Linked DNA regions of Homo sapiens: region 1 is linked to region 2. Evidence: fine-mapped expression QTL. A gene starts in region 2. The other region holds a variant in brackets. All regions are shown on one strand. Distances are from middle to middle. Region 1 has its middle 41 kb from the start of COLGALT1. Region 2 holds the start of COLGALT1 (collagen beta(1-O)galactosyltransferase 1).

What was found. PIP is the estimated chance that this variant, and not a neighbour inherited with it, causes the effect.
Region 1: its variant is the best candidate, but not a certain one, in a credible set for the expression of COLGALT1 in tibial nerve (GTEx, PIP 0.66).

What each region holds. Positions count from the first base shown.
Region 1 is chr19:17,593,600-17,598,973 of GRCh38, forward strand. No RefSeq gene overlaps it. Among named protein-coding and RNA genes, the nearest start is that of COLGALT1, 41 kb to the left of the region's middle. RefSeq lists an enhancer at 4,934-5,374. The variant A/G (reference allele first, on the strand shown) is at 3,076.
Region 2 is chr19:17,553,423-17,558,796 of GRCh38, forward strand. It overlaps COLGALT1 (collagen beta(1-O)galactosyltransferase 1), which reads left to right and starts at 2,227. Exons shown (of 12, transcript NM_024656.4): 1 at 2,227-2,551. The coding sequence starts at 2,292. NIBAN3 (niban apoptosis regulator 3) reads left to right here. Exons shown (of 15, transcript NM_001321827.2): 15 at 1-218. RefSeq lists a silencer at 2,305-2,394.

The DNA.
Region 1 (5,374 bases), 40 kb after region 2:
TCCCCTGTGACCTGCATGTACACATCCAGATGGCCGGTTCCTGCCTTAACTGATGACATTGTCTTGTGAAATTCCTTCTCCTGGCTCATCCTGGCTCAAAAGCTCCCCTACTGAGCACCTTGTGACCCCCACTCTGCCCGCCAGAGAACAACCCCCCTTTGACTGTAATTTTCCTTTATCTACCCAAATCCTATAAAATGGCCCCACCCTTATCTCCCTTCAAGGACTCTCTTTTCAGACTCAGCCCACCTGCACCCAGGTGATTAAAAGCTTTATTGCTCACACAAAGCCTGTTTGGTGGTCTCTTCACACAGACACGCATGAAATTTGGTGCCGTGACTCAGATCGGGGGACCTTCCTTGGGAGATCAATCCCCTGTCCTCCTGTTCTTTGTTCCATAAGAAAGATCCACCTACGACCTCGGGTCCTCAGACCGACCAGCCCAAGAAACATCTCACCAATTTCAAATCCAGTAAGCGGCCTATTTTCACTCTCTTCTCCAACCTCCCTCACTATCCCTCAACCTCTTTCTCCTTTCAATATTGGCGCCACACTTCAATCTCTCCCTTCTCTTAATTTCAATTCCTTTCATTTTCTGGTAAAGACAAAGGAGACATGTTTTATCTGTGGACCCAAAACTCTGGCACCGGTCACGGACTAGGAAGGCAGCCTTCCCTTGGTGTTTAATCATTGCAAGAACGCCTCTCTGATTATTCACCCACATTTCAGAGGTGTCAGACCATGCAGGGATGCTTGCCTTGGTCCTTCACCCTTAGCGGCAAGTCCCGCTTTTCTAAGGGGCAAGAATCCCCAATCCCTTATTTCCATGCCCCAACCTCTTATCTCTGTGCCTCGATCCCTTATTTCCATGCCCCGACCTCTTATCTCTGCGCCCCATCCCTTATTTCCGTGCCCTGACCTCTTATCTCTGTGCCCCAACCCCTTATTTTTGCACCCTGACCCCTTTCTGGCTTTTCTGGAAGGTAAGAACCCCCAAACCCCTTCCCTCTGTGTCTCTACTCTCTCTTTTCTCTGGGCTTGCCTCCTTCACTATAGGCAACCTTCCATGCTCCACTCCTCCATCTCCCTTAGCCTGTGCTCTCAAGAACTTAAAACCTCTTTGACTCACACCTGACCTAAAACCTAAATGCCTTGTTTTCTTCTGCAATGCTGCTTGACCCCAATACAAACTCAACAGTGGTTCCAAATAGCCAGAAAACGGCACTTTCAATTTTTCCATCCTGCAAGATCTAAATAATTCTTGTCGTAAAATAGGCAAACAGTCTGAGGTGCCTGACGTCCAGGCATTCTTTTACACATCGGTCCCTCCCTAGTCTCTGTGCCCAGTGCAACTCGTCCCAAGTCTTCCTTCTTTCCGTCTCTCCTGTCCCCTCAGTCCCATCCCCAAGCGTCCCTGAGTCTTTCTAATCTTCCTTTTCTACAGACCCATCTGACCTCTCCCCTCCTCCCCAGGCTGCTGCTCACCAGGCCGAGCTAGGTCCCAATTCTTCCTCAGCCTCCGCTCCTCCACCTTGTAATCTTTTTATCACCTCCCCTCCTCACACCCGGTCCAGTTTATAGTTTCATTCCGTGACTAGCCCTCCCCCACCTGCCCAGCAATTTCCTCTTAAAAAGGTGGCTGAAGCTAAAGGCATAGTCAAGGTTAATGCTCCTTTTTCTTTATCCGACCTCTCCCAAATCAGTTAGCATTTAGACTCTTTCATCAAACATGAAAAACCCAGCCCAGTTCGTGGCTCGTTCGGCAGCAACCCTGAGACGCTTTACAGCCCCAAACCCTAAGAGGTCAAAAGGCTGTCTTATTCTCAATATACATTTTATTACCCAATCCACTCCTGACATTAAATAAAACCCCAAAAATTAAACTCCGGCCCTCAAACCCCACAACAGGACTTAATTAACCTCACCTTCAAGGTGTACAATAATAAAGTAGAGGCAGCCAAGTAGCAATGTATTTCTGAGCTGCAGTTCCTTGCCTCCACTGTGAGACAAACCCCAGCCACATCTCCAGCACAAAAGAACTCCAAACGCCTGAACCGCAGTGGCCAGGGATTCCTCCAGAACCTCCTCCACCAGGAGCTTGCTACAAGTGCCGGAAATCTGGCCACTGGGCCAAGGAATGCCCGCAGCCCAGGATTCCTCCTAAGCCGTATCCCATCTGTGTGGGACCCCACTGAAAATCGGACTGTTCAACTCACCTGGCAGTCACTCCCAGAGCCCCTGGAACTCTGGCCCAAGGCTCTCTGACTCCTTCCCAGATCTTCTCGGCTTAGTGGCTGAAGACTGACACTGCCCGATCACCTCGGAAGCCCCCTAGACCATCACGGACACCGAGCTTCAGGTAACTCTCACTGTGGAGGGTAAGCCCATCCCCTTCTTAATCAATATGGAGGCTACTCACTCCACATTACCTTCTTTTCAAGGGCCTGTTTCCCTTGCCTCCATAACTGTTGTGGGTATTGATGGCCAAGCTTCTAAACCCCTTAAAACTCCCCGACTCTGGTGCCAACTTAAGACAATACTCTTTTATGCACTCCTTTTTAGTTATCCCCACCTGCTCAGTTCCCTTATTAGGCCGAGACACTTTAACTAAATTATCTGCTTCCCTGACTATTCCTAGGTGACAGCCACACCACATTGCCACCTTTTCCCCCAGTTCAAAGCCTCCTTCACATCCTCCCCTTGTATCTCCCCACCTTAACCCACAAGTATAAGACACCTCTACTCCCTCCTTAGCGACCGATCATGCACCCCTTACCATCCCATTAAAACCTAATCACCCTTACCCCGATCAATGCCAATATCCCATCCCACAGCACACTTTGAAAGGATTAAAACCTGTTATCATTCTCCTGTTACAGCATGGCCTTTTAAAGCCTATAAACCCTCCTTACCATTCCCTCATTTTACCTGTCCTAAAACCAGACGATGCTTACAGGTTAGTTCAGGATCTGCGCCTTATCAACCAAATTGTTTTGCCTATCCACCCCGTGGTGCCAAACCCATATACTCTCCTATCCTCAATACCTCCCTCTACAACCCATTATTCTGTTCTGG[A/G]TCTCAAACATGCTTTCTTTACTATTCCTTTGCACCCTTAATCCCAGCCTCTCTTCGCTCTCACTTGGACTGACCCTGACACCCATTAGGCTCAGCAAATTACCTAGGCTGTACTGCCGCAAGGCTTCACAGACAGCCCCCATTACTTCAATCAAGCCCAAATTTCATCCTCATCTGTTACCTATCTCGGCATAATTCTCATAAAAACACACGTGCTCTCCCTGCTGATCGTGTCTGATTAATCTCCCAAACCTCAATCCCTTACAAAACAACAACTTTCCTTCCTAGGCATGGTTAGTGCAGTCAGAATTCTTACACAAGAGCCAGGACCGCACCCTGTAGCGTTTCTGTCCAAACAACTTGACCTTACTGTTTTAGCCTAGCCCTCATGTCTGCGTGCAGCGGCTGCCACTGCTTTAATACATTTAGAGGCCCTAAAAATCACAAACTATACTTAACTCACTCTCTACATTTCTCATAACTTCCAAAATCTATTTGCTTCCTCATACCTGACGCATATGCTTTCTGCTCCCCGGCTCCTTCAGCTGTACTCACTCTTTGTTAAGTCCCACAATTACCATTGTTCCTGGCCCGGACTTCAATCTGGCCTCCCACATTATTCCTGATACCACACCTGACCTCCATGACTGTATCTCTCTGATCCACCTGACATTCACCCCATTTCCCGATATTTCCTTCTTTCCTTTTCCTCACCCTGATCACGCTTGATTTATTGATGGCAGTTCCACCAGGCCTAATCGCCACACACCAGCAAAGGCAGGCTATGCTATAGTACAAGCCACTAGTCCGCCTCTTAGAATCTCTCATTTCCTTTCCATCGTGGAAATCTGTCCTCAAGGAAATCACTTCTCAGTGTTCCATCTGCTATTCTACTACTCCTCAGGGATTATTCAGGCCCCCTCGCTTCCCTACACATCAAGCTCGAGGATTTGCCCCACTCAGGACTGGCAAATTAGCTTTACTCAACATGCCCCGAGTCAGATAACTAAAATACCTCTTAGTCTAGGTAGACACTTTCACTGGATAGGTAGAGGCCTTTCCTACAGGGTCTGAGAAGGCCACCGCTGTCATTTCTTCCCCTCTGTCAGACATAATTCCTCAGTTTAGCCTTCCCACCTCTATACAGTCTGATAACAGACCAGCCTTTATTAGTCAAATCAGCCAAGCAGTTTTTCAGGCTCTTGGTATTCAGTGAAATCTTTATATCCCTTACAGTCCTCCATCTTCAGGAAAAGTAGAACGGACTAAAGGTCTTTTAAAAACACACCTCACCAAGCTCAGCCACCAACTTAAAAAGGACGGACAATACTTTTACCACTTTCCCTTCTCAGAAGTCAGACCTGTCCTCAGAATGCTACAGGGTACAGCCCATTTGAGCTCCTGTATAGATGCTCCTTTTTCTTCACATGGACGCCCATGAAACCCGGGAGGTGGAGCTTGCAGTGAGCCGAAACCGCGCCACTGCACTCCGGCCTGGGTGACAGAGCAAGACTCCATCTCAAAAAAAAAAAAAAAAAAAAAGAATGGCTACTCCATAGACAGAGCAGCCCCAAGGCTGCTGGTTGCCCATTGTTATGGTTATTTCTTGATGATATGCTAAAGGAAGGGTAGATTATTCATGCCTTGCGTTTTTAGACCAAATAGGGTAACTTCCTGATGTTGCCATGGTATTTGTAAACTGTCATGGTGATGGGGGGAGTGTAGCAGTGAGGATGACCAGAGGTCACTCTTGTCGCCATCTTGGTTTTGGTGGGTTTGGGCCAGCTTCTATTATTGCTGTTGTTGTTGAGACGGAGTCTTGCTCTGTCGCCCAGGCTGCAGTGCAGTGGCGCGATCTCGGCTCTCTGCAAGCTCTGCCTCCTGGGTTCACGCCATTCTCCTGCCTCAGCCTCCCGAGTAGCTGGGACTACAGGCGCCCACCACCATGCCCGGCTAATTTTTTGTATTTTTAGTAGAGACGGGGTTTCCTTCCTTTTTTTTTTTTTTTTTTTGAGATGGAGTTTCACTCTTCTCACCCAGGCTGGAGTGCAATGGCAGGATCTCGGCTCACTGTAACCTCTGCCTCCCAGGTTCAAATGATTCTCCAGCCTCAGCCTCCCGAGTAGCCGGGATTACAAGCACTTGCCACCATGCCCGGCTAATTTTGTATTTTTAGTACAGACAGGGTTTCACCATGTTGGCCAGGCTGGTCTTGAACTCCTGACCTCAGGTGATCCACTCGCCTCAGCCTCCCAAAGTGCTAGGATTACAGGCGTGAGCCACCGCGCCCGGCCACTTC
Region 2 (5,374 bases):
CTGTCTTGCAGCTGCTTCCGGAGTGGGTTCCACAGGGATTCCCGTGTGTTCTTGGTTCAGCTTGCAGAGGGACTTTCACACTCCCTGGAGACCGTTTCCTCCCATTCTGTCTGGAGTTTTCGGCCTACCCCAAGACAATGAGATATTCCTGACCTTTCCACCTATTTCCCTCCAACCCCACCTTCCGAAATACATTTGCTCAATACATTTGCACTTCATAGGCTTCTTTAGCTGTCTTCCTTTTACCCCGGACGGGATGTAGATGTTAATTCTGGAACAATTGCAGCTACAAGAATTTGTCATCCTGCCCCTTTTGAGAAAAACATTGTTTGCCCTTGGGTCTAAATCCTTCCAGATGGGATGGGATGTATCTTGTCACCTCCTTTTTCTTACTTAATATGAAAAGACCTTTCCTCATCAAGTCCACAGAGTGTAAATTTGTTTTTACCTTTTTTTTTTTTTTTTTGAGACGGTGTCTCACTCTGTCACCCAGGCTGGAATGCAGTGGTGCGATTTTGGCTCACTGCAACCTCCACCTCCTGGGTTCAAGTGATTCTCCTGCCTCGGCCTCCGTAGTAGCTGGGATTACAGGCGAAGCGCCACCATGACCGGCTAATTTTTTGTGTTTTTAGAAGAGATGGGGGCTTCACCATATTGACCAAGCTGGTCTCGAACTCCTGACCTCAAGTGATCCGCCTGCCTCAGCCTCCCAAAATGCTGGGATTACAGGCGTGAGCCACTGCACCTGGCCTGTATCATTCTTAAAAATTAAGTTTTAGCGGGGCATGATGGCTCACTGGTAATCCCAGCAGTTTGGGAGGCTGAAGGGGGAGGATTACTTGAGACCAGGAGTTTGAGAACAGCCGGGGCAACATAGCGAGACTCCATCTCTACAAAAAATTTAAAAATTAGCTGGGCGTGGTTGAGTGCACTTGTAGTCCCAGCTACTTGGGAGGCTGAGGCAGGAGGATCAGTTGAGCCCAGGAGGTTGAGGCTGCAGTGAGCCATGATCATGTGATCATGCCACTGCACTCTAGCCTGAGCCACAGAGTAAGACCCTCTCTGTGAAAATAATAATAAGCTGGGCGCGGTGGCTCACGCCTGTAATCCCAGCACTTTGGGAGGCTGAGGTGGGCGGATCAGGAGGTCAGGAGTTCGAGACCAGCCTGGCCAATATGGTGAAACCCCATCTCTACTATAAACAAAAATTAGCCGGGCGTGGTGGCGCGTGCCTGTAGTCCCAGCTACTCAGGAGGCTGAAGCAGGAGAATCGCTTGAACCCGGGAGGCGGAGGTTGCAGTGAGCCGAGATCGCGCCACTGTACTCTAGCCGGGGCAATGGAGTGAGACGCTGTCTCAAAAAAAAAAAAAAAGAAAATAATAATAATAATAATAATAATGTTCAGATGTATTTTTTAAAGTTTTTATTGTTTTTAAAAATAGAGGCACGGTCTTGCTATGTTGCACCACTGCACTCCAGCCCGGGCAACAAAGCCAGACTCCGTCTCAAAAAAAAAAAAAAAAAAGTGTGATACTAAGTCAATCAATTTGAAAATGCGGCTCTAGAGTATTGGAAAACAATCCCTTGACAGCGTTTCCATGAAAACATGGCCCTTGTCTCTGGAAGAGCTTGTGCCCAGAACGGTCCATTATCATGCCCTGGCTCTATTTTCACGCCAACCCTATAGGGTCTCTATGATCTCATTTTATAGATGGACAGACTGAGGCTCACATATAGCAAGCCCAAGGCGGGGACTGAATGTGACGCCAGGTCTGTGGACGTCATGACCTTTATTCTCCACAACCCTCAATGACATCCCTGTGAGATCCAAAACCAGGATGGCAAAACCCACGTTGCAGCAGAGGAAACTGAGGCTAAGGTCTCTTGGGTCCCAAACCAGGTCCTAAGTAGCCAAGTCCGCCTGGTGGCACAGCCCGGGTTTTATACATGGGGAAATTGGGCGGCGCATCTGGCGGAGGTCTCAGTGGTAGGAGGCGCCTGGAGGAAGCGCGGGTTCCTAACCCTAACGCTACCCCTAACATCCCTTCCACGCGCTCCGAGCGCTATGTGCCTTTAAGATCGGTGCGGGGGCGGGGCGTCCTGGGTAGGGCTGCAGGTGACGTCACTCCGGGCCTTGGGACTCGGAGAGCGTCTGGAGGCGGGGCCTGGACTTCACGCCCGGCGCGCTCCTCCCCTTTAAGGCGCGCGGCCGGGCGGGGCCCCTATGACCCCTTTAAGGCGCGGCCAGAGTCCTCCCGCAGAAAAACGACTTAAAGGAGACGCGTGGCGCGATGGCGGCGGCCCCACGCGCGGGCCGGCGGCGCGGGCAGCCGCTCCTGGCGCTGCTGCTTCTGCTGCTGGCGCCACTGCCGCCGGGGGCCCCGCCGGGCGCCGACGCCTACTTCCCCGAGGAGCGCTGGAGCCCGGAGTCGCCCCTGCAGGCGCCGCGCGTGCTCATCGCGCTGTTGGCGCGAAACGCGGCCCACGCGTTGCCCACCACGCTGGGCGCACTCGAGCGGCTGCGGCACCCGCGGGAGCGCACGGCGCTATGGTGAGTCGAGCCCGCTGTCCCCATCAGGCGGGTCACGCGAGCCCCTGCTTGCTGTCCCCATAGGGGTGGGTCCACGCGAGCCCCTGCCCGCTGTCCTCTTCTGGGCGGGTCCGCGCGTGCTTCCTGCTCGCTACCCCCATCGGGACGGTTCTACGCATGCCCCTGCCCGCTGCCCCCATCGGGACGGGTCCACGCGTGCCCCCTGCCTGCTGTCCTCCCATGGGGCCAGACACAGCCCTCCCCACAACACAAGCGGGACCGAGTTCCTCCTGCTGGCTCCTTTGGGGTGGGCTGGGCACCGCTTCTGCCTGCTGGACCCTACTAGGGCAGCTCCGGCCTCACTAACTGGGGCTCTAACTCCCTCTGGGGCACGTACACCTCCAAAGGACGGAGCCCAGAGCCCCCACTGGGGCGTTGCCAGAGGCCACATCTAACAGCAAGCCTTTCTGTGCCGGCTGCTGCCCTTAAGCTTGAACTCAGCCTGGCTCCAGGCCCCAGTCAAACCCCTGCCCTCAGACCGGCGTGGGTGGAGTCCAGGACCAGATGGCCCAGGAGGAAGTGGATGCTTTCTTGGTAGGGAATGGGGCAGAGCTCTGAAGAAACCTTTGACTGGTGACTTCTCACTCCCTGCCTCAGTTTTCTCAAATGGAAAATGGGTCCGGGTGCAGTGGCTCACGCAGTAATCCTAGCAATTTGGGAGGCCAAGGTAAGCGGGTCACTTGAGCTCAGGAGTTCGACACCAGCCTTGCCAACATGGCAAAACCCCGTCTCTAGAAAAAAAATACAAAAATTAGCCAGGTGCGGTGGTGTGTGCCTGTAGTCCCAGCTATTCAGGAGGCTGACGCAGGAGAATCGCTTGAGCCCAGGAGTTCGAGGCTGCAGTGACCTATGATTGCACCACTGCACTCCAGCCTGGGCTACAGAGTAAGACCTGCCTCTAAAAAAAGAAAAAGAAAAGAAAATGAGCGTATTAATATAATTCTCTTTTTGGGTTTGTCTCTGAAGATTATCCAGTTAATGGATGTGGAGCCCTTGGGTCTGGCATGGGCTTGGCTCTCAGTGATTTTATTATCATGATTACTGTCATTGCTGGTGTTATTGTCAACTTAATTTATTGGGCAGAATTAGCTTTTGGCACTACGGTCAAACTAAACTCCCAAATGTCGCTTTTCCTTCCACCTGATTTCTCAGTCTGGATAATCCAAATACACAATTGGTACTTAACAAATGTTTGTTGAATGAATAATTGACTGCAGCCCACTGAAGTGGTGTGGCTCACAGGAGAAGATGAAGGCAGGGTAAGGGATTTATGAGATATACTTTGAGATATACTTTTTTTTTTCTCTCAGACGGAATCTTGCTCTGTCGCCCAGGCTGGAGTACAGTGACACGATCTCAGCTCATTGCAACCTCCGCCTCCGGGTTCAAGTGATTCTCCTGCCTCAGCCTCCCGAGTAGCTTGGGATTACAGGTGCGCACCACCATGCCTGGCTAATTTTTGTATTTTTAATAGAGTCAGGGTTTCACCATTGTGGCCAGGCTTGTGTTGATCTCCTGACCTCATGATCTGCCTGCCTCGGCCTCCCTAAGTGCTGGGATTACAGGCATGAGCCACAGCGCCCTGCTGAGATATACTTTTTTTTTTGATACAGGGTTTTACATCTGTCGCCCAGGCGGGAGTGCAGTGGTGCAATCCTAGCTCACTGCAACTTCCCCCTCCTGGGCTCAAGTGATTCTCCTGCCTCAGCTTCTTGAGTAACTGGGACTACAGGCGTATGCCACTGCGCCCAGCTAATTTTTGTATTTTTTCTAGAGATGGGGTTTTGCCCTATTGGCCAGGCTGGTCTCGAACTCCCGAGCTCAAGTGACCTGCCCACCTCGGCCTCCCAACATATTGGGATTACAGGCGTGAGCCATTGCACCCAGCTGGTTTCTGATATATACATTTCATTTTTTAATATTTTTTATTTATTTATTTTTTGAGACTGAGTCTCGCTCTCGTTGCTGAGGCTGGAGTGCAGTGGCACGATCTCGGCTCACTGCAACCTCCTCCTCCCAGGTTCAAGCGATTCTCCTGCCTCGGCCTCCTGAGTAGCTGGGATTACAGGTGCCCGCCACCACACCCAGCTAATTTTTTGTGTTTTTAGTAGAGATGGGATTTCACCATGTTGGCCAGGCTAGGCTCAAACTCCTGGCCTCAAGTGATTCACCCGCCTCGGCCTCCCAAAGTGCTGGAATTACAAGCGTGAGCCACCATGCCCGGCCTAATTTTTGTATTTTTAGTAGAGATGGGGTTTCGCCATGTTGGCCAGGCTGGTCTCAAACTCCTGACCTCAGGTGATACACCCGCCTCGGCCTCTCAAAGTGCTGGGATGACAGGCGTGAGCCACCGTGCCTGGCCTGATCTATACATTACAAAAATTGCCGTGTGCGGTGGCTCATTCCTGTCATCCCAGCACTTTGGGAGGCTGAGGCAGGTGGATCACCTGAGGTCAGGAGTTCGAGAGCAGCCTGGCCAACATGGCGAAACCCCATCTCTACTAAAAATGCAAAAATTAGCTGGGCATGGTGGTGGGCACCTGTAATCCCAGCTACTCGGGAGGCTGAGGCAGGAGAATTGCTTGGACCTGGTAGGCGGAGATTGCAGTGAACCAAGATTGTGCCACTGCACTCTAGCCTGGGTGACAGAGCAAGACTCTGTCTCAAAAGAAAAAAAAAATTAAGTGACACATATTTGTTAGTGAATGTGGTTTGCAAGATCTTAGATGCTCAGTAATAAAACAGCCAATCACTAATGGGTCTTTCCAAAATCAGCTTGTTTAA